Linked DNA regions of Homo sapiens. The protein of the gene in region 3 interacts with the protein of the main gene of each other region in a biochemical or structural test. Each region holds a gene or a part of one and is shown on either strand. Other genes may lie near its edges. The genes, in order: CASP3, IRF1, BIRC3 and PELI1.

Evidence for each region.
Region 1: the proteins of BIRC3 (region 3) and CASP3 form a complex in vitro, tested with the Homo sapiens proteins (one study listed by BioGRID).
Region 2: of the proteins of BIRC3 (region 3) and IRF1, one has a biochemical effect on the other in vitro, tested with the Homo sapiens proteins (one study listed by BioGRID).
Region 4: the proteins of BIRC3 (region 3) and PELI1 form a complex in vitro, tested with the Homo sapiens proteins (one study listed by BioGRID).

The regions. Positions count from the first base shown.
Region 1 is NC_000004.12:184,639,422-184,646,453, reverse strand, and holds part of CASP3 (caspase-3 isoform a preproprotein), read left to right. Parts: intron 1-1,731; exon of another isoform or gene 1,732-1,911; coding exon of another isoform or gene 1,912-1,923; intron 1,924-7,032. UniProt on the Homo sapiens protein: Thiol protease that acts as a major effector caspase involved in the execution phase of apoptosis. Following cleavage and activation by initiator caspases (CASP8, CASP9 and/or CASP10), mediates execution of apoptosis by catalyzing cleavage of many proteins.
Region 2 is NC_000005.10:132,481,105-132,487,801, reverse strand, and holds the end of IRF1 (interferon regulatory factor 1), read left to right. Parts: intron 1-671; coding exon 672-848; intron 849-957; coding exon 958-1,007; intron 1,008-1,115; coding exon 1,116-1,245; intron 1,246-1,428; coding exon 1,429-1,551; intron 1,552-2,085; coding exon 2,086-2,135; intron 2,136-3,304; coding exon 3,305-3,440; intron 3,441-3,726; coding exon 3,727-3,851; 3' UTR 3,852-6,193; downstream 6,194-6,697. UniProt on the Homo sapiens protein: Transcriptional regulator which displays a remarkable functional diversity in the regulation of cellular responses.
Region 3 is NC_000011.10:102,334,460-102,339,911, reverse strand, and holds the end of BIRC3 (baculoviral IAP repeat-containing protein 3), read right to left. Parts: intron 3,947-5,452; coding exon 3,692-3,946; intron 3,153-3,691; coding exon 3,111-3,152; intron 3,004-3,110; coding exon 2,810-3,003; 3' UTR 509-2,809; downstream 1-508. UniProt on the Homo sapiens protein: Multi-functional protein which regulates not only caspases and apoptosis, but also modulates inflammatory signaling and immunity, mitogenic kinase signaling and cell proliferation, as well as cell invasion and metastasis.
Region 4 is NC_000002.12:64,106,405-64,113,436, forward strand, and holds part of PELI1 (E3 ubiquitin-protein ligase pellino homolog 1), read right to left. Parts: intron 6,269-7,032; exon of another isoform or gene 6,159-6,268; intron 1,976-6,158; 5' UTR 1,907-1,975; coding exon 1,836-1,906; intron 1-1,835. UniProt on the Homo sapiens protein: E3 ubiquitin ligase catalyzing the covalent attachment of ubiquitin moieties onto substrate proteins. Involved in the TLR and IL-1 signaling pathways via interaction with the complex containing IRAK kinases and TRAF6.

The DNA.
Region 1 (7,032 bases), on a different chromosome or scaffold from region 3:
TTTGAATAGTGGAGAGTGCTCTGTACTGTCTTCCTGGTCACGTGGCCCTTGCCAGAGGAAAGGAAAGGATGGTTTGTTTGTATAGTACAATGGAACTTATTTCAATGTATTCTGTATTTGATTTTACATTCCTGTTCTCATATTTTTACCTTAATTACATAACAAATATTAAAAGATTGACTTCACCAGGCCCAGTTACAATCGCCAGTTTGATAATTCTTATACGTACTCAAATGAATTCAGAGACCAGATGGGAAAAGATTTTGATAAAACCTCTGGTACATCACAACTGAAGTCTTTTCTTGTCCAAACTATTGTGAAACAGATGTTCTTTCTGTTTCATTTGCTAAATCTGGAAACGTGACTGCTTTTGAGACTTTGTCCTCTCTGACAGGTAATAAATATAATCCTGATATTTTTCAAGTTGTTTGACAGAAGTGTAATCTCCCCAGAAGTCCTGCTGGACAGGCTTCACTTTTCCTTTGGAGGAACACAGAGATACAGGGAATATGTTTTAATGACATATACCTAACGCTGAACATGAAACCAGTTATTTTACTTTTATTATTATTATTTTTAGAAACAGCCTTGCTGTGTCACCCAAGCTCAAGTGCAGTGGTGCGATCATAGCTCACTGCAGCCTCCAATTCCTATGCTCAAGTAATCCTCTTGCCTCAGCCTCCTGAGTAGCTGGGACTACAGGTGTGTGCCACCATGCCAGGCTACTTGTTTTTACTTTGTTATAGAGATGGGGTCTCTCTGTGTTGCCCAGACTGGTCTTGAACACATGATCTCAACCATTCCTCCCACCTTGGCCTCCCAAAGTGCTGGGATTACAGGCGCGAGCCACTGTGTCTGGCCTATTTCACTTTAGAAGTAAATTGAATGCCACATGCGAAGTTTGTTAAATTTTTTTAAAAAAGGAAAGAAAACACAAAAGTAAACTACCTAGTCGCATCAGAAATGCCATAGTCATTTTTGCCATTTTTTCATTCATTAGAATTCAGTGCATTATGTTATTTTGTTATCTCTGCAGTAACTTTCTATCATGTTATTTATTTTCTTTGTCTTATTTAAAGCTTCTGAGATTATGGATTTTTGTTTCCTTCCCTGAAGTTAAGTGTTATCATTCCTATATAGTACTAAGCTGTCTACAGAATAGTGGGAGTCTGCCCTCTTGAGTTGGGAAGATCCTAGTTTGAATCTTGGCTGTGCGACTTTAAAGTTCATTAACTTCTCTTAGCCTCAGTCACCTGAACTCTGCAGTGGGGATCCTTATGCCTCAGAGTGTCATTGGGAGGACTCACGAAAATACGCTTGTACTTTGAGTTCAGTACCTAGCCTGTATGAGCCAGCATTAAGAGGGACAGTCATCACGCAGCGCTTTGCACACAGCTCTCACGCCACATCCTTTGGCTACTGTTTTGGTAAATCTTTACTAGTAAATGTTTCTTAAAAGCATTTACATTCATGGACATGATTCAGAAACTAACAGTTGTTTTTTAGGTCTCACTTTGAGATTTAAAAACCCTTAGGGCAGAGACCAGATTTTATTTCTTACCTCAGAGTTTCCCTGTAGGACAGGAACCAGCAACAGCCTAATGAGCTGATTAAGAATTTTAGAGATTTAAAATTTAAATTAGGATTGCCAGTTTTAGAGACTGGCACATAAATGTTTTCATTTAAGGCAGTGACTGTTTCCTTTAGGATATGATTTTTTATCTTTCTAAGATGAGATCACCATCCTCAGAATAATTTGTACCCCGCTGGGCACTAGCTAATGGAGGTGATGTCATGCTAAGCAGCACTTCAGTGAGTTTTGCGGGAACCAAAGCTCTGCTCCCAGGAGTGTGGATTTGGTGCTTTCATGTGGAAAAAGCGGATGATGACAAGTAGAGAGCAAATGTGCGCATGTCTGATGCTGTAAGGATTTCCTTTACCATCATATAAATTTTTAAAGTATATCAAAATAAACTGATAACTGAGAAAATATATGTTGTTCAGATACTAATAATGAAGTTAATGAAGTCCACTATAGTATTTGTCCCTGAGAAATCTTTATCAAATATTTTAAATCCTATTGTAAAATAATGTATTTTTTCTTTCAGTTTTAGAGACTGGCAATCCTAATTTAACATCTCCTTTTGAATTCCCCACCACAGGCACACTTTCACACATTCACTCTTTAATAACAGGTTGTTTCAAATTGTTAATACTTTATAGCTTAATATAGAAATTTCACTTTAGAAATTAATTTTTATTTCTCTGCCTTAATGCTATAGATGTTGTAGTCTGCTTTACTTCAGTATTGTAATGAGTAGTTGGCTAACCACCATGTAAATAGGGAGAACATTCTAGTTTTTTACTTGTGTAGGAAAACACAGCTTGAAATGTCTAAGTATCTATTTTAGAGTGAAGTAAATTTATACTGACAATATTTTTTTGTGTTTGAAGACCTGACTGTTACAGCGTTGGTGGCAAGTGTTAAGGGATCCAGGAACTAGACAAGTGATTCTGAGACCTGAGTTCCAGGTTTCTAAGTAATATCAGTTGGTCTACTGAGAACTTTGCCATAAACATATGTGTTCAGAAATTTCCTTTCTTAGCAGCAGCATCCTGAATTGAACAGAATTACACACACATCAGCCCAGTAAGAAACAATTCATGTTAAGTCCATTGCTATGCCAGGATAAATCTTTTAAATCACAATTATTTTTCCTATTTATATTTTGTCAAATAAGAATGTTCTAAAAACCAAAATTTCTGTTTTCTTTTTTTTTTTTTTTTTTTTTTGAGACGGAGTCTCACTCTGTCGCCCAGGCTGGAGTGCAGTGGCGCGATCTCGGCTCACGGCAAGCTCCACCTCCCGGGTTCACGCCATTCTCCTGCCTCAGCCTCCTGAGTAGCTGGGACTACAGGCACCCACCACCACGCCTGGCTAATTTTTTATATTTTTAGTAGAGACGGGGTTTCACCGTGTTAGCCAGGATGGTCTTGATCTCCCGAACTTGTGATCCGCCCGCCTCGGCCTCCCAAAGTGCTGGGATTACAGGCAAAATTTCTGTTTTCATTTAAGGCAGTGACTATTTCCCTTAGGATGTGATTTTTTTATCCTTCTAAGATGAGATCACCATCCTCAGAATAATTTGTACCCTGCTGGGCACTAGCTAATGGAGGTGATGTCATGCTAAGCAGCACTTCAGTGAGTTTTGCGGGAACCAAAGCTCTGCTCCCAGGAGTGTGGATTTGGTGCTTTCATGTGGAAAAAGCGGATGATGACAAGTAGAGAGCAAATGTGCGCATGTCTGATGCTGTAAGGATTTCATCTACCATCATATAAATTTTTAGAAGTATATCAAAATAAACTGATAACTGAGGCAATGTATGTTGTTCAGATACTAATAATGAAGTTAATGAAGTCCACTATAGTATTTGTATAGTATTTGTATATTACAGTACTCTGAAAAGCTGGTCACTATTTAAAGTTTCCATTACCAGTCACAAGGAGAGAATAATTTTATCCCACAATTTTATTGCTGGCAAAAGACACAAGTTTATTAAAAGTCAGTATTTCAGTGTAAGAGTTACTAGACTGTTTGCAGAAGTGTTCAAAAGAGATCTTTAGGTCCTTGGTTGTCTGTGGAAGCTGATCAGCATTTAGGGGTTCCTGAGCACAGACTGTGAACCCTGCATTTGGCACATGCATTCAGAGAGCCAATTTGAGGCAGACTGGGGGCTAGAAAGGATACTGCCAGGAGCTCCAGGTTCAGCTTCCGAAGTTATTAAGTCTTATTTCCCAGTTTTTAAATTAGACTTCATTTTTTAGAGCAGTTTTAGGTTCAAACCAAAATTGAGAAGAACGTACAGAGACATCCTGTATCCCACCTGCCCCCCAACACGTGCGTAGTCTCCCCCATTATCAACATCCTGCACCAGAGTAGTACATTCTTACAAAGGAACCTACACTGACACGTCATCATCACCCAAACGCCATCGTTCACAATCAAGTTCACTCTTGGTGCTGTTTATCCTATGGTTTTGGACAAATTTACAAGGACTTGTATCCACCATTATATTGTCACACTGAGTAGTTTCACTGCCTTAAAAAGTCTCCGTGCGGGCCGGGCACGGTGGCTCACGCCTGTAATCCCAGCACTTTGGGAGGCCAAGGCGGGCAGATCACGAGGTTAGGAGTTCGAGACCAGCCTGGCCAACATGGTGAAACCCCGTCTCTACTAAAAATACAAAAATTAGCCTGGCATGGTGGCATGCGCCTGTAATCCCAGCTACTCAGGAGGCTGAGGCAGGAGAATCGCTTGAAACCTAAAGGCGGAGGTTGCAGTGAGCCGAGACCACGCCACTGCACTCCAGCCTGAGCAAGGAGCGAAATTCCATCTCAAAACAAAAAAAAAAAAAAAAAAAAATTCTCTGTGCTGTCTCCCTCCCTCCTAGCCACTGGCAACCACTGATCTTTTTACTGTCTCCATAGTTTTGCCTTTTCCAGATTGTCAGATAGTTGGAATCATGCGGTATATATGGCCTTTTCAAACTGGCTTCTTTCACTTAGTAATAATGCATTTAAAGTGTTCATGGCTTGCTAGCTCATTTCTTTTTAGTGCTCAGTAATATTCTGTTCTCTGGATATACCACGGTTTATTTATTCATTCACCGACTGAAGGACATCTTAGTTGCTTCTAGTTTTGACAGTTATGAATAAAACTGCTATAAACATCTGTGTGCAGGCTTTTGTGTGAACATAAGTTTTCAACTCCTTTGGGTAAATACCAAAGAGTGCGTATTTACCATATGGCTGGATCATATGGTAAGAGTATGTTTAGTTTTGTAGGAAACTGCCAAACTGTCTTTCGAGTTGGCTGTACCATTTTGCATTTCCACGAGCAGTGATTGAGAATCCCTGTTGCTCCACATCCTCACCAGCATTTGGTGTTGATGGTGTTCTGGTTTTGGCCATTCTGCTAGGTATGTAATGATACCTCATTGTTGCTTTAATTAGCATTTCCCATTATTTGCAGTCTGTGTATCTTTGATGAGGCCCACTGGATTTTCACTTTAGATTTTCTATAGATTGGCCATAAAGTCTTGAAACAAAGATATTTTCTCATGGATTATAATGCAATATCAGTAAACTATTATGTGTTCACCTACGTTTCCAGACTTGTTAGCTACCCTGTACTGTTCTCTCAGTTAATCAAGTTAACCACAATTTGTTTCTCAACCACAGGTGGCTAATGATTTTGTATGTGGTCTGTCCGCTTTGAATTGATGTGCATGGGGCAAGTTGGTCTCTATGATATTCATGGTTCAAGGAAGTTCGAGATTTCCTGGTACCTAATACATGTTTATTGTACATATGAAAGAAAAAAGGGCAGATAGAGGGGAACATGGTACTGAGCATGATAGAGGCAAGGAAGGGTGGCTACTTTGATAGGAGAATACCCCTATTTTTGTCACTCTTGAAACAGGGCCAAGAGTTGAAATTGGCTAGAACAATCCTGACCTTTGTTGATATTATTTTATAGAATAATATTTGTTACTGTTTTCTCACTTTTAAAAAATGCAGATGTTATAGAAAAATTAGAAGATATAGAGGAATGTTAAGGAGTAAATAAGGTGTCAGTAATGCCATCACCCAGACAGCCACTGTTAATAAATATGTTAATATGTGAAGACATACTAATATGTAATATGTACTGAGTGACTAATGGCAGGTCACTTAGTAGCTGTCTCGATTATCAGATCAACTGTCATGGTATGGCAGTGTTTATGTTCAGGTACCCGTATTAGTTATTGTTGTTAATCCCTTTCTGCGCCCAAGTTATAAACTAAACTTTTTCATAGGTATGTACGTATAGGAAAAAATATGCTGCATATAGGCTCAGTACTGTATTTGGTTTCAAGCATCTACTGGGGGACTTGGGAGGTACCCCCTGCCCCTGCCCCACAGGTATACTACTGTATAATTATTCTTCTATCTAAAGTAAGATCTAATGGAAGATAGGAACTTTGTCTTGTCTTCCACTCTGTCCTATTTCCCAGGATGATACCTGGCACAAAGTATTTGTTTACTGACAAACTAAAAGATGATTTATCCCAATTATACTCACATCTTCCCTTGATTTTCCAGAAAGCCTACAGGAAGTAAGATGGTAGAAAAGCAAAGTCTTCGTAGAAATGCAGAGCATAGACTGGCTCTTGGAGAAGGTCAAACATCACCCTCTCCTGTGGTTAAATTGAGATGGTGGCACTGGCTGTCTTCTATATTATTGCTGCACCTTTCCTCACCAGGGGTGCACACAAAACTGGGAGAGAGGGGAGGAAGGAGCTTAGCTTTGTCTTAATAGAAGGGAAGAAATGATGTTTTCCAAGAGACCTTGAAATTGGGGACCTTGGTAAAGGTTTCAGTTTGGGAAGATAAAAAAGTCCTGGGATGGATTCCAACAGTGTAACTGTACTCAATGCCACTGAGCTGTACGCTTAAGAGTGGTAAATTTTATGTCTATTTCACCACAGTTTTAAAGATTAAAATTTTTAAAAGTGGGGGAAGTTACCTAGGACTTTCTAGAAGGACTTTTGAGGGTGAGCAAGTTCTGTTATAGGCTTGTGTATTATTTTGGTATTTCTGATTTTATCATAGGAGTGAGGTTAAAGTTGTATTTTGACTGGAATTTTTGACATTGTCAGGGTTTCTAGAGTGTGGAGAAGGTCACTCAGTATTTTTTGTTTTTGTTTTTTGTTTTGCCTTTGTTCTTGTTTTCCTCTATTTAGGGAGGTGGATTGCCATGGGAAGTACCTTTGCTTCGAAAAGCCAGAAAATGCCTGGTAGAACTCCAGAAAAGTAGTAAGGAGCTGGCTTCTTCAGAGGCAGCATAGCAGAGTGGGAAGAGGGCCCTGTCACTTAGATTGTGACTGTCGACAAAGTCACTTAACCACCAGAAGTTGGGTTTTCTGACGTTTAGAATTTTGAAAAGATTAAAACTGAGTGCCTTGCAAAGTACCTGGTATATATTAAGT
Region 2 (6,697 bases), on a different chromosome or scaffold from region 3:
AGAGGGGCTGGTGGCAGACTTGTGTTTCTGGAGAAGAGAGTCGATCATCTCAGCAAATTCTCAAAGGGAAAAGCCAAGATCTTAGAAAGTGTGTGGCTTCAGGGGGTTTGTGGCTAGATGAAAGTTCTCCCTGGCAAAAGCATCTGTGAAAAGCAGCTGTAAGCCAGGGCACTGAAAGAGACCCAGGTCTGCCTTTTTCTTCGTGTTGACCAAGGCCCTTGGTCCAAGCCTCATGTGGTTGGTGGCCTCCTTTATCCTTGAGAGATGGAGCTCTAGGCCCATCTCAGAACAGTCAGCCCACCCATTTAGTAACTGTTCTCTGCTGCCCAGTCTGTGCCCACTCTACCCTCTGGCTGCTGATAGCCCAAGGAGGAAGACTGGGCATAGTCTGAGACACAGATAGTACACTTTGGGGATATGGGGACTCTAGTGCTTCTGGCTGGGCCCTTCACTGAGGCCCGCTAGATGTGTTTAAGCCAAGCCTGGGCATTTGAGAAGGCCCAGGGCCTAGGACCTGCAGAGTGTCACCGGGAGTACCTGCTGGTTTGACCACTGTGGCTCTCTGGTAGCATAAGAGGTCAGGGGTACCTTGCCTTCCTCCTTCAGGCCAGGGGCAGCTGAGGATCCCTACCCATGGCCCTGACGATCCTCTTTTTTCTCCTGCCCTCTAGGCCGATACAAAGCAGGGGAAAAGGAGCCAGATCCCAAGACGTGGAAGGCCAACTTTCGCTGTGCCATGAACTCCCTGCCAGATATCGAGGAGGTGAAAGACCAGAGCAGGAACAAGGGCAGCTCAGCTGTGCGAGTGTACCGGATGCTTCCACCTCTCACCAAGAACCAGAGAAAAGGTATCCAAGGACTCTGGGTCCTTGGGAAGCCCTCAGGGAGGGAGGGTAGAAGGAGGTCAGCTGGGGCTGGAGAGCCTGCACCAAGGCTGACAGCCCGTCTGCCCCACAGAAAGAAAGTCGAAGTCCAGCCGAGATGCTAAGAGCAAGGCCAAGAGGAAGGTGAGTGTGGTCCTAAGCAGCCAGGCCTTTGGTCACCTGTGGGCCAGGGTGAGCAGTGGAAGAAATGCTAAGGTGGGCCTGGGCCTAAGCTGCTTTCTCCCTCGACAGTCATGTGGGGATTCCAGCCCTGATACCTTCTCTGATGGACTCAGCAGCTCCACTCTGCCTGATGACCACAGCAGCTACACAGTTCCAGGCTACATGCAGGACTTGGAGGTGGAGCAGGCCCTGACTCCAGGTGAGCTGGTCCAGGTCTGGCAGGAGACCCCACAGGTCAGTGGGATGACTCTTTCTCTTGGAGGCATGGTGCTGGCACATGGTGGCCCATTAGTGCAGGCTGCAGGGTTGGTCGGAGGGCGCTCGATGTCTTGCAAACTAAGAAAGCACACAACCTTGACCTGTGGCTTCTGCTGTTCCCCAGCACTGTCGCCATGTGCTGTCAGCAGCACTCTCCCCGACTGGCACATCCCAGTGGAAGTTGTGCCGGACAGCACCAGTGATCTGTACAACTTCCAGGTGTCACCCATGCCCTCCACCTCTGAAGGTTGGTGCTCCTGGGGCCTGGCCTGCCTGCTTGACTGTCTGGGTCCTGTGAAGGGCTTCCTGAGAGAGAAAAGATGATCAGAACTCCACCTGGCACTGAATTGATTGAGTTGGGCATTGCCCAGTCTTAGCCACCATAGGGGGAGGCAAGCGACGGGGACACTAGGAAGGCAGTTCAGAGTGGGCTGCAGTACAGTGGGGGCTGGTGAGAGGAGGGAAGGGGGCCAGGGGCTGCATTTTGGGGTGCTGGTTCTCCTTCCTCCTCTGTAGCCCAGCATCTGAGGGTGAGGAAGGAAGTAGGGTAGGGGTGGGAAGCGGCGTGGCTTCAGGGTTTGAGAGGCTGAGTCACCAGGCCAGGGTCCTGTTCTGGAATCTCTATGGCAGATAGGTCCACCGGGAGGGTGTGTGTGTGTGTGTGTGTGTCAGAGAGACAGAGAGACAGAGAAAGGGCAGGGGGATCTGGTGGGCTGGAACTGGAACTGCAGGGTGAGTGTGGCTGACTGCCAGCCAACCTCTCTGCTTTCCCCATCCACAGCTACAACAGATGAGGATGAGGAAGGGAAATTACCTGAGGACATCATGAAGGTAAAGCCCCTTCCTACCTGGGCACTCTTGAAGTGACCGTTTCTCAGTGAGGAGAGAGAACCAGTGAAGCTTCCAAATCAGAGGATGGGTAGCTGCTGTTGTCACCTGGCTGCTTGCATTGTCCCACAAGTGCCACATTCACGTGGCTTGACTGGTGGGAAAGCCACCATGGGAAGGGAAGGCAGGTGGGAGGCCTGGCCTCTGACAGGCCGTCCTGAAGCAAGCCTTGGGGCATCAGACAGCTCTGTGAGTCAGGCACTATCAGCGATGGGTCCCTGGCCTGCATCCTCTGCCCCAACATGCCCCAGCCCTGCTAGTTCGGGAAATGCACATCAGGCTTCAATAATCAGCCTTTAGGATCCGTTAATATGATGATGGCTTTATAGAAAAAGTTAGCAAATTATCCTCCAGGTTTTTTTTTCTGCTTCAGTTTTGAAAGTGAATATAGTTTTTGCAGCCGGGGGCAGTGGCTCATGCCTGTAATCCCAGCACTTTGGAAGGCGAAGGTGGGTGGATCACCTGAGGTCAGGAGTTTGAGACCAGCCTGACTAACATGGTGAAACCCATCTCTACCAAAAATATAAAAATTAGCTGGGCCTGGTGGCGCATGCCTGTAATCCCAGCTACTCTGAAGGCTGAGGCAGGAGAATCGCTTGAACCTGAGAGGCGGAGGTTGCAGTGAGCTGAGATTGTGTCATTGCACTCCAGCCTGGGCAACAAGAGCAAAACTCCATTTCAAAAAAAAGTTTTTGCAGTAGTTGTACGCCAGCTGTTCCATTAGCCCAAAAAATTGAGACATGGATGTCGTTCCTTATCTCTAGCTTTTCTAGTCATCTTTTCTTGATTTATTATGCTAACCTTTGTTTTAAGCCACATTCCCTCTTACTATGTCCTTACACAGTTGAGAGGGAAGTCGTGGAGATGCTATACCAGAGAGTGGGTGTGAGAGGGGTGGGAAAATGAATTGAGGACCAGTGCCAACATGCATTTCTGCCTCCTCCCTCCCGGGCCCTTGTCCTGACTGCAGTGCACTTCTGCATCCTATCTGAGATTGTGAAAATGGCCAAGGGTGTGATACTGGCTGAGAGGAGCTGGCTCATTGAGGGCAGGGCCACAGGGTGAGTCTGCACTGGAAGGGAGTTGATAGCCTCTTGCTCTTCTGTCCCCAGCTCTTGGAGCAGTCGGAGTGGCAGCCAACAAACGTGGATGGGAAGGGGTACCTACTCAATGAACCTGGAGTCCAGCCCACCTCTGTCTATGGAGACTTTAGCTGTAAGGAGGAGCCAGAAATTGACAGCCCAGGGGGTAAGAAGGCCCTGGATCCTTATGGCTTCTTAGATGAGGGAGAACCACGTAGGGATGGAGAAAGCTTGGGGGCAGGGCCAGGGAGCAGGGCGGTAAAGCATCTGGGGTACTGACACATTGTGAATTAGCTACGGCTGCCATGCCTTAAGGTTTGCCTGAAGCTGAGTGGATGTTTACTGCTGTGCTGGGAAGAGCAGAGGCCATGTCTATGGCCTTCAGGGGTAGGGGGAAGCACACCTGATGCCACCGTCCCCTACCCTCATACAACCTTCTTCACATCTTCTAGGGGATATTGGGCTGAGTCTACAGCGTGTCTTCACAGATCTGAAGAACATGGATGCCACCTGGCTGGACAGCCTGCTGACCCCAGTCCGGTTGCCCTCCATCCAGGCCATTCCCTGTGCACCGTAGCAGGGCCCCTGGGCCCCTCTTATTCCTCTAGGCAAGCAGGACCTGGCATCATGGTGGATATGGTGCAGAGAAGCTGGACTTCTGTGGGCCCCTCAACAGCCAAGTGTGACCCCACTGCCAAGTGGGGATGGGGCCTCCCTCCTTGGGTCATTGACCTCTCAGGGCCTGGCAGGCCAGTGTCTGGGTTTTTCTTGTGGTGTAAAGCTGGCCCTGCCTCCTGGGAAGATGAGGTTCTGAGACCAGTGTATCAGGTCAGGGACTTGGACAGGAGTCAGTGTCTGGCTTTTTCCTCTGAGCCCAGCTGCCTGGAGAGGGTCTCGCTGTCACTGGCTGGCTCCTAGGGGAACAGACCAGTGACCCCAGAAAAGCATAACACCAATCCCAGGGCTGGCTCTGCACTAAGAGAAAATTGCACTAAATGAATCTCGTTCCCAAAGAACTACCCCCTTTTCAGCTGAGCCCTGGGGACTGTTCCAAAGCCAGTGAAATGTGAAGGAAAGTGGGGTCCTTCGGGGCGATGCTCCCTCAGCCTCAGAGGAGCTCTACCCTGCTCCCTGCTTTGGCTGAGGGGCTTGGGAAAAAAACTTGGCACTTTTTCGTGTGGATCTTGCCACATTTCTGATCAGAGGTGTACACTAACATTTCCCCCGAGCTCTTGGCCTTTGCATTTATTTATACAGTGCCTTGCTCGGCGCCCACCACCCCCTCAAGCCCCAGCAGCCCTCAACAGGCCCAGGGAGGGAAGTGTGAGCGCCTTGGTATGACTTAAAATTGGAAATGTCATCTAACCATTAAGTCATGTGTGAACACATAAGGACGTGTGTAAATATGTACATTTGTCTTTTTATAAAAAGTAAATTGTTTATAAGGGGTGTGGCCTTTTTAGAGAGAAATTTAACTTGTAGATGATTTTACTTTTTATGGAAACACTGATGGACTTATTATTGGCATCCCGCCTGAACTTGACTTTGGGGTGAACAGGGACATGCATCTATTATAAAATCCTTTCGGCCAGGCGCGGTGGCTCACACCTGTAATCCCAGCACTTTGGGAGGCCGAGATGGGTGGATCACCTGAGGTCAGGAGTTCGAGACCAGCCTGGTGAAACTCCATTTCTACTAAAAATGCAAAAATTAGCTGGGCGTGGTTGCGGGTGCTTGTAATCCCAGCTACTCAGGAGGCTGAGGCAAGAGAATCGCTTGAACCTGGGAGGTGGAGGTTGCAGTGAGCCGAGAACATGCCATTGCACTCCAGCCCGGGCACCAAAAAAAAAAAAAAAAAAAAAAACCTTTCATTTGGCCGGGCATGGTGGCTTATGCCTGTAATCCTGGCACTTTGGGAGGCCAAGGTGGGCAGATCACCTGAGGTCAGGAGTTTGAGACCAGCCTGGCCAACATGGTGAAACCTCATCTCTACTAAAAATACAAAAATTAGGCCGGGCACGGTGGCTCACGCCTGTAATCCCAGCACTTTGGGAGGCAGAGGCGGGCGGATCACGAGGTCAGGAGATCAAGACCATCCTGGCTAACACGGTGAAACCCCGTCTCTACTAAAAATATAAAAAATTAGCCGGGCCTAGTGGCGGGTGCCTGTAGTCCCAGCTACTCGGGAGGCTGAGGCAGGAGAATGGCATGAACCCCGGAGGCAGAGCTTGCAGTGAGCCGAGATTGCACCACTGCACTACAGCCTGGGCGACAGAGCGAGACTCCGTCTCAAAAAAAAAAAAAAAAATTAGCCGGGCCTGGTGGCGGGCGCCTGTAATCCCAGCTACTGTGGAGGCTGAAGCACAAGAATCACTTGAACCCGGGAGATGGAGGTTGCAGTGAGCTGAGACTGTGCCACTGCACTCCAGCCTGGGTGACAAGAGTGAGACTTTGTCTCAAAAAAAAAAAAATCCTTTTGTTTATGTTCACATAGACAATGGCAGAAGGAGGGGACATTCCTGTCATAGGAACATGCTTATATAAACATAGTCACCTGTCCTTGACTATCACCAGGGCTGTCAGTTGATTCTGGGCTCCTGGGGCCCAAGGAGTGTTAAGTTTTGAGGCATGTGCCATAGGTGATGTGTCCTGCTAACACACAGATGCTGCTCCAAAAAGTCAGTTGATATGACACAGTCACAGACAGAACAGTCAGCAGCCCAAGAAAGGTCCTCACGGCTGCTGTGCTGGGTAGCACTTGCCATCCAGTTTCTAGAGTGATGAAATGCTCTGTCTGTACCGTTCAATACAGTAGGCACTGGCACTAGCCACATGTGCCAGCTAAGCACTTGAAATGTGGCCAGTGCAATAAGGAATTGAACTTTTAATTGCATTTAATAAACTGTATGTAAATAGTCACATGTGGTCAGTGGTTACCATATTGAACAGTGCAGGTAGATACTGGACTGGGGGCAGATCTGAGGGAGAGGGGTTTGAGTAGTGGGAGGACACTGGGGATAGGGGCTTGGGGCTATTTACCTGCCATTTTGAGTAGTTTGCTATTTTAGCAGCCAACAATAACTATTGGTGCTGAATACCAGCCCTGCAGTGTAGCATGAGACAGGTCCATGCACACATGCATTAGGAAAACACCTTCATGAAGCAGGATTCTGCCTGGGCTGATGCACACAACCTCTATGGAGGGTAAACAGTGTTTCTGAAGACCGTAGTTTGGGAACCCCTGACATATGACAATGCCCCCTTAGATAAGCTCAAGTTACAGGAATGTCTGAGGGTGGAAGGTGTGGATATGTGCTTTTCCTGTCTCCCTCTTCAGTGTCTGGCCATGGGGCATAAACACTACCCAGCAGTAGGTAGGCTGGCCAAGAGAAGCCAGCTTGCATCACCAGCATCATCTAGGGA
Region 3 (5,452 bases):
TTTTTAATTATTTATTAAGACATGGTCTTACTATGTTGCCCAGACTGGTCTTGAGCTCCTAGACTCAAACGATCCACCTGCCTTGGCCTCCTAAAGTTCTGGGATTACAGGTGTGAACCACTGCATCTGGTCTTGAATTTTCTTAGTAACATACATAGTGTCTACTATGATGTGCAAGACAACAAAAGGAGGTGACATCTTCTCCAATAGGAGCTGAATATGGTTCAATCACATTGCCTGTGACCACAAAGGAACTTAATGGCTAATGGTATCAAGCGATATAAGGAAATTAAGAGAAAGGTTGGAATGGAAGCTATAATGAGCATGGCTGAAGTATGAAATTAAGCCTGCTGCAAAGTCCTGTATGATCACACTTAATATATTGAGGTTTAAACCCAATGACTGAAGACCACGTTGGCTGGTAGGTGGGGTTGGAGGCAATCAAATGGATTAATGCATGTCAAGCACCTGAAAACATCTGACATTTGGTCAGCAAATAGATCTACCATTATTATCTATGGTGATTTATTTTTTCCAAAACAAAATGTCAAAATAACACTTAGGGAAATAACATATTTGAATAAATGGGTTGGTTATAATAGCTATTTATTACCATAATGAGAAATGAACAAAAGTTTTACAGTGAGATGACAAAGTTCAAATATTATCTGTAGTATACAAGAACTAGATAAAAAAAAAAACACATGGTGCAAAAAGGGTGCCTACTATTTAAATACCCTATACCTGAGTTACAAATCACCTAAGCACAATTACAAATAATTCAGCCTAGCACCCATGCAGGACACTGGCTAGTACATGGGTAGCCAGCAGAGCCTCTTAGCAGAGGCAAAATCAATTGCATTTCAAGGAAATAAGTCTCCCAGCATCAGAATGCAGAGATGGATTCTTTCCTCCCCTCACTTGGTCCCTAATTGTTCTCTTTACAACACTAGCAGATGTTGGGGCTCAGAAAACCCAAAGTGAAGGCCTCAGAAGCAAAGTTTTTCTCTGATGTTATCCTGCCCTCCTGTCTCAGCCTCATTCTCCCTGAAGGCAAGCCACAGAAACTTGAATTCCTCTTCCCCAAGGTAGGTCATAGAAACTGGAACCATCTTTCCACAATGCCAGACTTACATCTTAAAGATAGTACTCTAATCTTTCCTCACCTAACTATGTAAGAGCTGGCCATAAATAAATTCTCTGACCTACCTTGCTTGATAGCAGGTTATAATATCCCCATCCCATACAGGCCCTGCCCTATATCCAGGAGGAAGGAATGCTGCACAGAGACCAAGAATAATCTGAACAGACAGGCCTTGCTGGGTCCCCAACCTGTGTCTATTCCCATTAGATCATATCCTTTTTTTCCAATCACTATTCTTCAGGGCTGTCCATTCATTATCAAACCTAAGCATAAAAATGCACAGTTTCCCCTGTAATTTTGGATCTTCATTACGAAGGCTCCCCGGTGATGTAAATCTGTGATTAAATAAATTTGTTAAGTTTTTCTCTTGTTAACCTGTCTTTTGTTATAGGATTGTCAGCTGTGACCCTTATGAAGGGGTCTTTCCCTTCTGCCCTTACAGAGCCATCTGCCCCTATACAGACATCTAGAACTGGTTTAGATGACTAGCCTTTGCCTGCCTTCCCCTGAGTATTCCCTATTACAGTCTTACTTCTGCTCTTGAAGACCTAATACCTCTATAAGAAGCAAAGGACAGAGTTATGACTCGGACGTGTTGAGTACCAATAACATAATGCAGAGGGGGACATTTTGTTGCACTGACAATATGAAACAGATTTATTTACCAGAACAACCTGTTGGTCCCAAGCATTGCTAACCAGTGTACTTTCTAAGTTTCAGAATTAATACCAAAGAGATAAGAATAAAACTCAGACCTTCTTCCAATAGGTGGGGCTGGCATGAGACTTCTTGAATGAATCAATAGAGAAGTGAATAAACAAACTTACTAAAGGGACTGTTTGATTCTTGTCTCAGGCATTCCATAATAGATTTTATGATGTGTTGACCCCGTGTTCTACAAGTGTCAATGAAGAAGCATCTTATGGGAAGGAGTATAAACTGTAGTTCAATATTTGAGAGGCTTTAAGAAGGTATGGAAAGAGTCTGGGAGTGACTAAACTATCCAATGTCATTGAAATAAAGCAATGAAGAATAAGAGTAATTTTTGTTGCTTTATTAAATTTTTTCTCACAGAATTCTTTATAAAAACACCATGTCCCTAAAATGTCATTCAACATATATGCACACCTTCGATGTATAGGACACTGATCAAAAAAGACAGAGAAATGTGTCCCTGGTGTTTTGTTTTTGTTCTGTTTGTTTTTAAAGGCAGGGTCTCAGTATGCTGCCCAGGATGGATTCAAACTCCTGGGCTCAAGTAATTCTCTTGCCTCAGCCTGGGACTACAGGCACATACCACCACACCTGGCTTCATGTTCCCGGTATTAGTACAATGCCAAAATATTTAAAATTCTTAAAGGTTAACTCAAATATCTTAAGTTTTACTTCACTTACAATTTCAATAATGCTGAAATTTTGATTGAATATTGTGTTTGTAGTGCTACCTCTTTTTCGTTCATAAGAACAAAAGCCTATCATTCTCTTAGTTTCTAAAAAATATATGTTCATATGGTTTAGATACATATATAAATATGTTACACAAAACAATGTTTTTTGAGTTGTAAATAAATAAAAATTTTAAGGAAACCAAATTAGGATAAAAGTTAAAGTTATAATACATTTAATAAATTAATTCTAAAGTTTAGACGATGTTTTGGTTCTTCTTCATGAAAGAAATGTACGAACTGTACCCTTGATTGTACTCCTACAAATAGGACACTTTCTTAAAGAAGGAGCACAATCTTTGCATACTACTAGATGACCACAAGGAATAAACACTATGGACACTTCTTTGTCCATACACACTTTACATGTTCTTTCTTCTTGTAGTCTCCGCAATTGTTCTTCCACTGGTAGATCTAGAAAGAGGAAAGAATTTTTAATAAAAGGCAGTTTGCTTCTTCAGTGAAAAACTAAGAAAATAAAGACAATGTTCTCTATTGATTTAAAATATTAGTACTATTACCTGAAACATCTTCTGTGGGAATATATTTTATGTCCTGTTGCACTAAGGGAGAAAAAGAAAAAGCATTACTATGACAAATAAGGTTAATATTTAGCTATGGAATCTATTTTAAAAATGAACACTTTAGACTATAGCCAAATACTCATTTCAAGGCAACAGAAGTCTTTAATCTTTTTATGTAACTAATATCTATAAATTAGATTGATTTTTTTTTGAGACAGAGTCTGTCACCCAAGCTGGAGTGCAGTGGCACAATCACAGCTCATGGGAGCCTCTATCTCTCAGGCTTAAGCCATCCTCCCACCTCATCCTCTTGAGTAGCTGGGATTACCAGGCATACACCATCACAAATAATTTGTTTTAAAAATTTTTTGTAGTGATGGGGTCTCGCCACGTTGTCCAGTCTGGTCTCAAACTCCTGGGCTCAAGCAATCCACCTGCCTCAGCCTCCCAAGGTGTTAGGATTACAGGCATGAGTCACCACATTCAGCCTGAATTATTTTCAGTAGTCATAAATTATTAATAAGAGCGTATTTTCAATTGACTTAGAAAATTTTTAAAAATAATTTTCTATCACTCACCAAATAAATGCTCATATAACACAGCTTCAGCTTCTTGCAGAGAGTTTCTGAATACAGTGGCTGCAATATTTCCTTTTACTAAAATCGTATCAATCAGTTCTCTTGCTTGTAAAGACGTCTGTGTCTTCTGTTTAATAACATCATGTTCTTGTTCATTAATAATTCCGGCAGTTAGTAGACTATCCAGGATTGGAATTACACAAGTCAAATGTTGAAAAAGTGCCATTCTATTCTTCCGGATTAATAATAAATCATCTTTATAAAAAAGAAAACAAGCATAAACATGTTCAAACTCTGCTCACAAACTTCCTTCCAGTCCTATATATATAGCAGGATAAAAACTATCTTTAATTCGTAATCAGTAAGGCATTGATGTTGATTGCTAGGTTTAGGGGTGTCTCATCTCCTTTGCTTAATAATAATGTTATTATAATTATAATCCAGGGTGCAGTGGCACATGCCTGTAGCACCAGCTACTTGGGAGGCTGAGGTAGGAGGATCACTTGAGCCCTGGAGTCAGAGACCAGACTGGGCAACATAGCAATACCCTGTCTTAAAAAAATATAATAATAATAATAATAATGCTACTTATAGTAAGGACTAACATTTAGTGAGCACTGTGTTAAGAACTTTACATGTATTGATTCATTTCATCTTCACAACAGCTCTTTGAGGTAGGTCCTAATAGCCTCATTTAACAAATGAGAAAATGAAGCTGCAGTGAGGCAATTAAGTTGCCGAAGGACACCACAACTAGCAAAAATCAAACTGAGGTAGTCTGGTGTCATGTACTGTGCTTTCAATCATTTGGCAATACTGCTAAGCCTTTAACCAAATGGAACTTAGAACCCATTAAAATTGACGTTTCAATTCAATCTAGTCAAATTGGGGAAAGACAAAATCAAGAGAATTAAAACAATTTTTTCTTAAAGTGTCATTCTTCCATAAAATTTCTTTTATTATTTATTTATTCATTTTTAAAACAGAGTCTTGCTCTGTCGCCCAGGCTGGAGTGCAGTGGTGCGATCTCAGCTCACTGCAACCTCTGCCTCCCAGGTTAAAGCTATTTTTGTGCCTGAGCCTCCTGAGTAGTTGGGATTACAGGCATGTGCCACTACATCCAGCTAATTTTTTGTAGTTTTAGTAGAGATGAGGTTTCACCATGTTGGCCAGCCTGGTCTCGAACTCCTGGCCTCGAGTGATCCGCCCACTCCGGCCTCCAAAAGTGCTGGGATTACAAGTGTGAGCCATTATGTCCGGCCCATAAAATTTCTTTAAAATTCCATTTTAAGTTGAAATTTTAATTATTTCCAGAAATTAGACATATTGCCATTACCTAAATATTTTATAGTAAGCAGGGAAAGGCAGTAACAGCATTTTGAATAATAAACCCTATTTGTCAACGACTACCTTCTCGTCCTACAAGATATCATCTAATTCTCCTTCAAGACCTAGATTTTGTATCCATTGGTAAAACATTTTATATTTTAAAACTGCAGTTTTATTATCTCTTTGGAATATAACTTATGAATCTAAGTTTATTAATTTTCATATAGCTTACCATAATCCATAAAGCTGTTTCTAAAAAATAACTAATGACAGAGGCTGAGCTATCTGAAGAATTGTTTTGGGAGAGAGGATTGTTAGATTTTAGATACACTGACTTTGTCAAGTGATAGGACTCATAAAAAGAACCATTTAAGAAAGAATAAAAAATGGAAAAAAGAAAACAGCAAAAATCAAAAACAACAACCAGAAAAT
Region 4 (7,032 bases), on a different chromosome or scaffold from region 3:
CTGGCGGTTTAAAACCCTAAGCTAAATATTAAACTATTCTTCAAATGACTCTCAAATTTCCTGCTAGAAGAATTTAATCTGGAAAAGTTTTTGGTAGTTAAGAGCTGTTTGTCATTGATACCATTAAAATCTATGTGATTTGAAGTTCTAATACTGTAGTTACTATGCTAAATTTATGATCTTTTAAAGCTTTGTTTCTGAGAAAAGAATTTTAAGTCTCAAAGGGCCTTAGATGATCTTATCTGTCATTTTTACAGACAAGGAAACTAAGGCCCAGGATGGTTCAGTGACTTGCCCAAGGTCACACAGCTAGCAGTGCTGAACAAGCACCGGATTCTAGGATTCCTAACATCCAGTCAAGCTCAGTAACTCCATATGATTTCCCCAGTTTCTCTTACTATCTCAACTGAAACAACGCATTCTCACTTTAACAACCTGACTCTCAAACATACCGCAATATCTAGAGTTGCTTTTTAGGCAAAAGGAGGGAAACAGTAGGGGGAAAATAAAATTAGCAATTTTCTTTTTTCTCATTTTTTTCGAGACGGAGTCTTGCTCTGTTGCCCAGGTTGGAGTGCAGTGGCGCTGATCTCAGCTCACTGCAACCTCCTCCTCCTGGGTTCAAGTGATTCTCCTGCCCCAGCCTCCCAAGTAGCTGGGATTACAGACATGCACTATCATGCCCAGCTAATTTTTGTATTTTTAGTGAAGATGGGGTTTCACCATGTTGGCCAGGCTGGTCTCGAACTCCTGAGCTCAGGTGATCTGCCCACCTAGGCCTCCCACCTGTAAGCTGGGATTACAGGTATAAGCTACTGCACCTGGCCTAAAATGAGCAATTTTCTAGTTTCTGAGATCTCTAGTTAGGAAAGGCTAATACTGTGTCTCCATTTTGATAGTTAATGGCAAGTTTAAGTGGAATAAATTGAAATAATTTGGAATAACAGAATCATCTATTCCTCAATCTTCAGATTCTATTTCTGTGAGTTACATGGATGAAATTACGTTAGGAGCTAAGAAGTAGCTAGGTCCTGGGCTTCAGAGGCATTATGCTGTCACCATACACATATACAACTCCTTTAACCCAAATGTACAGCACAAAGCAATAACTACTGTAGAGAGGCAAAAGAATAAATGAAGACTAACCTACATGAAATGACTTAAAGCAGGGAAGGGAAAGGGAATTTTTGGTAAAGTCAGCTGAGGCAAAACATGGGATAGGGAAGACAAATGGAATGACTGTGACAGTGGATAAATAACATTTTTCATTTCATTTCATTTTTTTTTTTTTGAGACAGAGTCTTACTCTGTTGCCCAGGCTGGAGTGCAGTGGCGCGATCTCAGCTCACTGCAACCTCTGCCTCCAGGGTTCAAGCAATTTTCCTGCCTCAATCTCCCAAGTAACTGGGATTACAGGCATGCCTCATCACGCCCGGCTAATTTTTGTGTTTTTAGTAGAGATGGGGTTTCACCATGTTGGCCAGGCTGGTCTCGAATTCCTGGCCTCAGGTAATCTGCCTGTCTTGGCCTCCCAAAGTGCTGGGATTACAGGCGTGAGCCACCATGCCCGGACTTTCCATTTCATCTTTGAGAAACTCTGCCCTTTCTGTGGGTAAGGGTGAGACAAAGCTTATGTCATATTTGAGTGCTTTTAAAAGATGGCATGAATATGAGAAGTAAAAGAGTTTCTTGATTTGGTAACATTACCTGTAGCTTTAAATTCTTTTTGGAAGCAGGTAAGATATAAATTCCAAAAAAAAAAGTACTTTTAGCCTAGATGCCAAAGTTAGCATATATTATTAAACTGTGTGTGTCATCAAATGGAGAAACCTTACCCTAAGACAATGAGTTCACCATATTTTACTGGTGCTTTAGATGGATGATTTTCTTGATCAGGAGAAAACATGAGCTTGGCTGTCTTTCTCAAATCTTTGTTCACTGGTCAGGAGCCTTGGGACACCTTTTGCATTATTTCCTAGAGGGGAAAAGTTTTCATTAATAATGTGAACAATTCGTTTCAGTTTAAATAAAGATGTTATTTTTCAGCAGTCCTCTTGAACACAATATTATGCAAACCATCACAAGGTATATACATTTTATGGGACATTTTGCCCAATAATGATTATATATTTTACAAAACTGTTTAAAGGAATCAAAAATGCAAATTTGAAGACTTCCACTTACAGAAGCATAGAGCAGACATACTTTTCCCTTTTATTTCTGCTAAGTATAACTAAAGACCCTGGACATTATATACAAAACATGAGAAGACTGTGAAAAGTGGAGAGAAGGCAGACTAAGTAAGGGACCTCAGGACCCATGGAATGACACGGTGGTGTAAATTCTCTGGGTTTTCTTTTTGCCTAATATATCCCAGACTTGGAGCTAAAGAAGGCAGCAACCTGGAAATGCCAACTGGCACAGACAAAAAGAGCCACAACAAAAGCTTGCTCTCTCTAGCCAAAGAAACAAGAAAGGGACAGCCTGGCAAGACAGAAAACTTTTGACAGTAACTGCTCCACTCCAGCCAAACCCAGAAAACAGTTTTGCCCCACCACCACCCACACCAACGAAAGCTAAGTGAGGAGCCTTGACTTCCAGCTCATAAACCATAGTGAGGAGCTCCAATGCCCTATTAGGGCAATGTAAAAGTAGGCCAACTAGGGAGCCAGGACTTTCACCCTGATGGCCGGGCATGCCCCAGCACCTACCTCAGTAGGTGTCAGCTAGACTTCCACCCCCACCCAGCAATAACAAGAAGGATCCTCTTCCTGAGGCATCAGTAGAGGCTGAGTAGGGACCCTTGACTTCTATGTCCACCTGGCAGTAATGAGGCACCCCCTATGACCTTGCCAAAGCAGTGTCAATAAAAGCCAGTGGAAACAGAAGGTTTAGATAATATCCAGAGCCTAGGAACATAATATGAAAATATCTAGTTTTAACAGAAAATCATTCATCCTAGCAAGAACAAGATTTAAAACAATGCAAAAGATAGGCTGGGTGCAGTGGTTCACGCCTGTAATCCCAGCACTTTGGGAGGTCGAGGCAGGCGGATCACTTGAGGTTGGGAGTTTGAGACCAGCCTGACCAACATGGATAAACCTGGTCTCTACTAAAAATACAAAATTAGCCGGGCGTGGTGGCACATGCCTGTAATCCCAGCTACTAAGGAGGTTGAGGCAGGAGAACCACTTGAACCCGGGAGGAGGAGGTTGCAGTGAGCCGAGATCAGTGCCACTGCACTCCAACCTGGGCAACAGAGCAAGACTCCATCTCAAAACAAAAACAGAAACAAAAACAAAAACAATGCAAAAGATAATCAATAGGTGCCAAAACTTAGATGACAGAATTACCTGACAAAGATTTAAAAGCAGCTATGATAAAACTGAACAGTGGAAATTACTCGATCTGAATAGAGAGAAAATAGGAAAAACAAAATGAAACAAAAAACAGAGCCTTATAGACCCGTGCGTGAGACTATAGCAAAATCTAACACGTGTGTCACTGGACACACATGTCAAAAAGACAGAAGAAAGAGTAAAGCTGAAAAAATAAAGAGGCTGGGAGCAGTGGCTCACGCCTGTAATTCCAGCACTTTGGGAAGCGGAGGCGGGAAGATCACTTGATGTCAGGAGTTCGAGACCAGCCTGGGCAACATGGTGAAACCCCGTCTCTACTAAAAATACAAAAATTAGCCAGGCATGGTGGTGTGCCTTGTAGTCCTAGCTACTTGGGAGGCTAAAGTGGGAGTAATCGCTTGAACCCGGGAGGCAGAGCTTGCAGTGAGCCAAAATTGCGCCACTGCACTCCAGCCTGGGCGACAGAGTGAGACTCCGTCTCAAGAAAAAAAAAAAAAAAAAAAAAGAAAAAATATCCTGGAAGCAGAGAGAGAGAGAGAACACTGCATTTATAACGACAATTAGACTGACAGTGGAGTTCTCATCAGAAACCACAGAACCCAGAAGATAGTGGCATAGTATTTTTCAGGTGCTGACAAAAATGGAAGGGAAGTCAAGACATTCTCAGACGAGGAAAAATTGAGAGAATTTGTTACCAGCAGACCCACTATAAATAAAGAATGGCTAGAGGAAATTAACTAAACAGAAAATAAATAAATAAAAGAACCTTAAAATATGAGATGTAAAAACACGGTAGCAAAAATATGAGTAAATACAATCGACTTTCCTTCTCTTGAATCTTCTGAATTTTGTCTGATGGTGAAAGTGAAAACTATAATACAGTTAGATGTAGTTCTAAATGTGTGTAAAGGAAATAGTTCAGAAAGGCCAAGGTGGGAAGATCACTTGAGGTCAGGAGTTCAAGACCAGCCTGGCCAACATGGTGAAACCCCATCTCCACTAAGAATACAAAAATTAGCAGGGCGTGGTGGCACGTGCCTGTAGTCCTAGCTACTCGGGAGGCTGAGGCAGGAGGATCACTTGAACCTGGAGGCAGAGGTTGCAGTGAACCCAGATCGCACCACTGCACTCCAGCCTGGGTGACAGAGCAAGACTCCATTTCAAAATATATATATATATATGTATTTGACACAAGTATAACAAAAAATTAACACTTCTGATCAGCCGGAAAATCACACAATAAATAATCCCCAAAATATTATCATGTCTTTTTCATCCTCAGTTTAATGGGATCAAGTATTTCCTGCATTTATTTCTCTCCCTAGTTCCTGATAGACCTGTTACAAAGGTTTCACAGCAAAACTCCTACTAGCTAGCCCATAAAAGTCTCCTCATTTTATACCTCCACCAACAGATTTCATAGGAATCTCATGAATGAAAAAGGTCTACTTGTCTTTTTCTACAGTACAATGAAATACAGCCTGTGTAGTGGCACTTTTGGTGAGAAGGCAACAGGGAATGTATGTAGCCCAATGAATAAGAACACGTCAAAGGAAAAGTCAATGAATAAAACAAATCATTCTGACCCCTACTAATCCCTTGGAAGTGACATACACATTTAGACCAGTCATTCACACTAACACACAACTACTATCATCAATAAATTCAAAAAATTATTTTAAAAAATGCTTCAGAAATATTTTAAGAAAAACATTTCCATCATTCAAATACACTAAAAACACCTCTCGTCACCCTAGATATATTTGCTTTTGCTGAAGAGATTTTAATTCATTACGGTATTTAAAAGGTTACAGAAACCAATATATTGCTATTTCACCATAACTGTGATACATCTGAGTTGTGAGGCAATCAGATTCCTTATTTAGAAAAATAAACTTATGCTAAGCTAACTAAAACCTTCAAGGTAAAAACTGAAGTTTCAAGAACAATTAAATCAACCAAAGAATAATTTTGGTTCCATATAATAAGATCTTCTGATATACATGAAATCATACTTTAGTATATAAACATGTATTCATGCCCTCTCATTTCCCCTCTAAGAAGCATTTCATTTAAAAAAGTTATACAGAAGCTTAACTAGAGGCATTAGCTGTGCTTTTTCTGTTTAGACAATTAAGGAACTGACATCAAACATGAAAACAATGCTTTGACACATTTCTGACGAAGAACAGCAATAATTAAAAATTTAATAACAATTAAATTTAAATTAATTTTAAATTAAATTTTAATAACGTTGCTTTGTTTTGAATTCCTATTTAGAGTTACTATTTAAAGGATATAATGGTTTTCTATTTATAGTAGCAAAAAATTTCCTTTAAAATAAGCTTATTTAAAGGAGTCAATTTAAATTGTATTAAATAGAATTAGTAAGTGCACAGATATGGCAAACATCTGAAAGTGTAAATGCCCGTATTTGGCTGACATTAGTATATCACATGGCTAGCAAGTATTAGCCTGTGTTCTAGTTCTAGCTGTCTTTGAACAAAGCAATCTGTTTCCTCATCTCTGAAAATGAAGGGACTAAAGTGGAATAAAGGGAATTTGGGAGCTGGAAAAAATATAAGCGACCATTTGGTCCTGACATAAGAATTTACAAGTAACGTGCATAACACTATAGATTTAGTTCTATTGCGTCTATAGCAAAAGAACAATTTTTTTGCTTAGACAAGAAACTAAAAAACAAGAGTACGGCTGGCATATACCCTCCATATAATTTCTAGAGCCCTTGGTCAAATTAGCCAAGAAAAACAATATATTTCCAATCAGACATATTCTTACTCTGCTTAGATCTCTTAGAAGGCCTTATCTGGGGATATTTTATCAGTGACATCAAAGTTTCAATCACAGGAACACATTCAATCTTGGCTTCTACTTCTGTATTTGATAATCTAAACCCAAAATAAAACACTTTTGTAGTACCAGTTATTTATATACATAAATGACCCAAGATAGTTTTCAAAATTTAAAAATGGCATATAATCAATCAATATACAACTGGCCTTATTAAACTGCAAATAAAATGCTGTGACAGCTATTCTTCCTGGAACTTTTTTTTTTATGTGTTCTCTGAAGAAAGATTCATGATCTTCCCAAAGGTTTATACTCTTTAACAAAGACCAGTACCTAGACAATGCTTTCCTACTCACTGTCTTTATATATTCTCTCTATATTTTAAAATCTGAGTAAAAGAATTCTTCAAAATGAATTCCTAGGCTGGGCATGGTGGCTCATGCCCGTAATCCCAGCACTTTGGGAGGCCAAGGTGAGAGGATCACTTGAGGCCAGGAGTTTGAGACCAGCCTGCGCAACATAGTAAGACTCCCGTCTCTACAAAAGATTTAAAAAAAAAAAAGTAAAAACAGAAAACATTAGCCAAATGTCATGGCATGCACCTATAGCCCCAGCTACTCAGAAAGCTGAGGTGGGAGGATCACTTGTGCCCAGGAGTTTGAGGCTACAGTGAGCTGTGATCCTCCAGCCTGGGTGACGGAGAGAAACTCTGTCTCAAAAAAAAAGAAAAAAAAAAAAAAATTCCTGAAGTCATGTACTTGAGAACTTTAAATGAGTATGTACATAAAAAACATCCGAATGTCTCGATTACTGGCTTCATTTGTTGGTCTTCAATTAAGTTAGTTTGACCTCATGTATTCAG